Regions from separate parts of the Homo sapiens genome. Here region 1 is linked to region 2. Evidence: fine-mapped expression QTL. Tissue or cell type: whole blood. Region 2 holds a variant in brackets; the other region holds the start of a gene. All regions are shown on one strand. Distances are between the middles of the regions.

Region 1 (2,684 bases), 53 kb before region 2:
AAGGGGAAGGCGGGACGCCCCCTGCCATCTGAGGCCCCCGGGGGCAGCGCGGTGAAGGGCAGGTCCGGCAGGTAGGGCGCGGTAGGGTAGGCAGTGGGGCCGCCGCCTGGGCCCCCGGAGCCGTCCGACGTGTTCTGGCCCACGCAGATCTCGCCCGCACCGTGCACCGGGAAGTTCTCGCAGCGCAGCCGCTCGGGCCACTGGAAGCCGAACTTGTTCATGAGCGCCTCGCAGCCCTGGCGGGCGCGCTCGCACAGAGAACGACACGGCGGGATGGCCTGATCGAGCACGGTGCACACGGGCGCATACATGGAGCATAAGAAAAAGCGGAGTTCGGGAGAACACTGCACCTTCACCAGCGGGTAGAACTGGTGCACCTCGAGGCCCGCGTCCTCTTGGTTCGTGTGGCCCAGCAGGTTGGGCAGGATGGTCTGGTTGTAGGCGATGTCCGTGCACAGCGGGATGGAGATGGGCTGGCAGAAGCCGTGGTCCGGCACGGAGATGCCCTTCTCTCCGTGGTACGGCTGCGCCCCGGCGCCCGCGGACAGTGCGCCCAGCAGCGCCAGCACCAGGGCACAGAGGCCCAGGGACGAAAGCGGAGCGGCCGCGCCGGGGTCCCGCATCGCCGGCCGCGAGTGCAGCGGTGCTCTCAGCCTGAGGAGTGCGACGAGGCGGTTGGGAGAGGCTTGGATGCGGGGAGGCGCCGCCGCGCCCGACGCATGAGAGTCCTCACGGCGCCGGGGCCGGGCCGTGGGCGGCGTGGAGCAAAGGGCGCTGCCGCCTGGGTGCCCGCGCCGCGAAGGCGCCGCAGACGCCGCCGCCCTGCACTCGCAGGGCCGCCGGGGGCCCAAAACTCGTCAGCCTGGGTTGGGGGCGCCGAGGAGGGCCGCCTCGCTCTCCCCGCGGGGACGTAACGGTGCGGCTCCCTCCGCCGCGAGGAGCAACAAGCGGCTCCGGCACCCTTCAAAGTTTGCCCAAGACTCTGGACCCCCGGCGCACCGCAGCGCGCACGCCCCCCGCGCCTGGTCCGGTCCCCGCTAGGAGAACCCCTGCCGCCGCCGCTCGCTCGCCCCGGCCGCCGCCTCCGCGGTGCTGCCCCGCCTCCTGGCCTCGAGGCTCCGCTCGTCGCCGCCTCCTTCGCCTCCTCCTCCACACCCCGCTCCTTCTTCAGCCCCAAAAGCTCGGCCCCAAGTTTCAGCCAAACGGCCGGCTCTTGCTGAGTCCGATCTCGGCCCCGGAGTCGGGAGCACGGCGAGTTCTTTTTGGAAACCCAGTCACACTGCGTCCGAAACCGCGAGGCGCTCGTGCCCGCGGCCTGGCCCCGGCCCCTCCAGCCCCTCGCAGCCCCAGCAGCGAGTCCTGGCGCCCGCCGCCGCCGCCGCCGCCGCCGCCCGCCGGGAGTGAGCGCCGACTAACGCCTCGGAGTCGCGCTGGTCGCCAGAAGAAGCGTCGGGCTCGCGGGGTTCCGGGCCGGCCCGCCCCCTCCCGTCCCCTCCCGTCCCCTCCCCTCCCCTCCCCTCCCCCCCCATTCACAAACCACTCCGGGGGCGGCCCCAGGCCCCGGCGGCCCAATGGCGGCCTTTGTTTTTTCGGTGGCCGCCTTCGGATTGGGCGGAAGTCGGAAGGGGCGGGCGCGGGAGTGGCGGAGGCGGTGTCCGCGGCGCTCTGGGCGGATTCCTGAGGGGAGGGGCGGGGGACTGGGAGGGAAAAGTTCGGAAAAACTTTTACCCTGAATTCGCTCAGGGACGAAAACGCGCAGAAAGGGAATTTGCTTCAAAGATTTGTTCCTCTTCCTGGTGCACTCAGATGCGCATTCCTGAGCAGGGGCGCCTTCGCCAGCGGCGTTTGAGGGGAGCGAGGACCGCGCAGCGCCCCTTCGGGGAGAGACGTGACCAGGAGTCGCGTTAGGACTGCAAAGGCTGGCTCTGGCGGGGCTTTCGGGTCGCCGGGTCCTCAATGTGGGGTTTGGGACGGGACGAGAAGGGGGTGCGCCTTGCGGATCGCCTCTTTCCCCCCGGACCCAAAGAGTCCACGCGAGGCCACAGTCCCCTCTCCCCTCCCCCGAGTTATAAAAAGGAGGAGGGGCCGCCTCCGAGGAGAAACCCGAGTCGGGCGGAGGGGGCCGAGTGACGGCGGGAGGAAGGACCCCTCGGAGGAAGGGCCCGAAGCAGGGAGAGCGGGGAACCCGGGCTCAGGCCACCCCGCCCGCGCGCACGGCCTGGAGTCTGGGGAACTGGGGTGACTCTAGCGAGGTTTTAAGGAAACGAAGACGGCGTTGGGGAGACTGGTTCTAGAAGTAACCTGAGACCGAGCGCCCAGGAACACTCTGTACGACGCGCCGGGCGTCTCAGTGGCCCCGTGTGCCTTGGTTCTGCGGCGTGTGCCCTTTCGGGATCCCATCTTCGTTGCAGAAGCAACCATTTGATCCTCCATTTAGAATCTGCGTAGGAATGTTTTAATGCGTCTTAGAAACCAGGCTAATTAAAGAGTTTTCAAAACACAAAGCGGGGTTATCCTCGTTCTCGGGTAGCGTTTTCTGATTGGCAAACGTTCTTTTGTTCTCGGTTAAATCTTCGTCTTGAGCCAGGCGCTGGGCGCTCGCGCGCGCTCTCTGGTTACTCCTGCGGGGGTCATAAGTCACCAGGGGGCCTCTCCCCTCTCTCCGGGCTGCCAGGAATATCAGG
Region 2 (2,684 bases):
ATCCCAATTTACACAACCCAGATGAAAGTGTTCTGGTGACTTTTTGGAGGCCACCAGGATATGTGTTTAGAGTCTTGATCTAGTTGCTATTGTCTTAGTTAGTGTGGATGTAGCAAAGTCTTTAGCCTGCAGCTGTGACAACTTATACTCCTTAGGAGCAGGTCTGGGTGGAGAAACCCAGGGATGAGGTCCCCTGACCCAAGTCCGAAAAGCCCAGATGCCCTGATTTGGTAGAGAAGCAAGTCCTTTGGTACTGAGCTCCCCACCTGTCCCTCTCTGGTGCCTTTTGCTTCTGGGAAGAAGAGACCAGGGGGCATCAGGGAACCAATGTGGCTTGGCAGTTACTTTGCTTCTCTGAATTCCAGTCTGTTGGGAGTGTGACATCACTGGAGAGGATGCCAGAGGTGAGCACTGTGGGAACATTTCTGTTTTCTCCTGCTCTCCAGTCTGTCTGTAATAACAAAGATGAGGCAACTGATAACAGAGGTGAGGTAGTGGAGAGGTCAGCCGTTTGGCTCTGGAGTTAGACTCCCTGGGTTCAAGCCCTAGCTCTTCTGTACTGGGATCTTGGCAAATTCCTTGACCTCAGTGTGCCTGTTTCTTCATCTGTGAAATGGGGAGAATATTCTCACCACACAGGGTTGCTGAACGGATTAAGTTAGACAGTTATCATAGCTCACAGCACAGCACGAATGACCGGCTCACGTTAGTTCCTGCCGCCAAGCTTCTGGTTTGGCTGTGGCATAGGTTGAGAGCATCCCACCTCCCTGGCCCCTGGGTCAGGGCCACATACCCTCCTCTGGTTGTAGAACACTGGGAAATTACCCATGCTTTGTCTTTTCACTTTTCTTCAGAAATGTGGGACAGCTCAGTCTCTTTGGGTTCGTTGCCAGAACATGAAGCTCTAAGCAAAGCAGTGTGGCGCATATGGGACCACTTTTTGACAAGCTGGCTCCATGCAGGCCGCCAGGTGGAAGAACACTCTGATCCTCAGGGAAGCCAAATTCCAATAGACTCTGTGGGGTACAGCCAAGACAGGAAGCAGGCTCTAGTGTCCCCACATATTCTGGAACAGTGGTCTTAAGGGGGCCTAGAAGCTAGCCAGAATCTATGCAAATTACAAGGAAGCATTTGTCCTTTTCCCAGATTCTTAAAGGGGCCTGAGACCCCAAAATGGGAAAGAGTCATTGTCAGAGAGGACGATGACCTCAGACAGCCAGGAGGGGGAACCTGGACGAATGGCCCAACGTGGGATGATCATCAGTGGGTGGATCAGGCTCCTGCCCGGGGCTCCGCTGGGAAATGGCCATGTGTGAGAGTACAGGATGTAGGGCTGGTGCCATCAGAACACAACCACGTGTCTCCTGCTGGCAGGCAGTGGGGACAAGAAACCAAGAATTCTGCTGTTCAAATAAGCGATCTGGGTTGATAATATGACTGATATGAATACACTTGCTAATGGTTGTTCCCTTTTTAAGGTCCCAAATTAGA[A/G]AACATGACAGATTCAAGTTTCTGGTGGTATGTGGATGCTCCGAAACTTGCCGAGAGGATGAAGGGTATTGGTTTCTTTCTGGGGTGGAGATTTCCTTCATGAAGTAGTTTACCTCAAGTTTCTTCGTCTCTCTTTCTTTCTTTATGCCTGCCCTGTTCTCAGCAACAGGAAGAACCATGAACAATAACAATCACAACCGGTACCATTTATAGGACAGTAGCTGTATACAAGGCACTTGTGTTGAATGTTTTCTAGTTATTATCTAGGTTAATCCCAACACTATTCCTTGAATATAGGCATTATTATTTTACAGATGAGGAAACTGAAGCTCAGAGAGATGAACTCTCCTGCTAAGGTCCACAGCTAGTACACAGAGGAGCGTGGATGTGTGCAGTCCCTGCAACTCTGATGTCTGTGTACTGTCCTGCCACCTCCCACTCCGGCCCTGCATCACAGACTGGAGTTAAGAGTGTTACCCTGAGGCTGGCCAGGTGTGGTGGCTCACTCCTGTAATCCCAGCACTTTGGGAGGCTGAGGTGGGTGGATCACGAGGTCAAGAAATTGAGACCATCCTGGCCAGTGTGGTGAAACCCCGTCTCTACTAAAAATACAAAAATTAGCTGGGCATGGTGGTGGGCGCCTATAATCCCAGCTACTCGGGAGGCTGGGGCAGGAGAATTGCTTGAACCCAGGAGGCGGAGGTTGCAGTGAGCCGAGATCGTGCCACTGCACTCCAGCCTGGTGACAGAGCGAGACACTGTCTCAAAAAAAAAAAAAAAAAAAAAAAGAGTGTTACCCTGAGGCCAGGTGTGGTGGCTCACGCCACCCAATCCCAGCACTTTGGGACCGAGGCAGGCATATCACCTGAGGTCGGGACCAGCCTGTTCGGGACCAGCCTGACCAACATGGAGAAACCCCGTCTCTACTAAAAAATACAAAATTAGCCGGGTGTGGTGGCAAATGCCTGTAATCCCAGCTACTCAGGAGGCTGAGGCAGGAGAATCGCTTGAACCCAGGAGGCGGAGGTTGTGGCGAGCCAAGATTGCACCATTGCACTCCAGCCTGGGCAACAGGAGTGCAATGCGTCTCAAAAAAAAAAAAAAAAGAAGAAGAAGAAAAGAAAAAAAGAATGCTACCCAGTTAGGGTCTGTCCCAGAGAAAAAGGCCAAGGGGGAGGGTGTCGAGAGCAGGA

The links. PIP is the estimated chance that this variant, and not a neighbour inherited with it, causes the effect.
Region 1: it holds the start of FZD7, and the variant in region 2 is fine-mapped to the expression of FZD7 in whole blood (TOPMed, PIP above 0.99).

Annotation. Positions count from the first base shown.
Region 1 is chr2:202,032,587-202,035,270 of GRCh38, reverse strand. FZD7 (frizzled class receptor 7) reads right to left here and starts at 1,416. Exons shown (of 1, transcript NM_003507.2): 1 at 1-1,416. The coding sequence starts at 623. RefSeq lists enhancers at 375-494, 1-532 and silencers at 1,095-1,174, 1,285-1,834.
Region 2 is chr2:201,979,379-201,982,062 of GRCh38, reverse strand. No RefSeq gene overlaps it. Among named protein-coding and RNA genes, the nearest start is that of FZD7, 53 kb to the left of the region's middle. The variant A/G (reference allele first, on the strand shown) is at 1,492.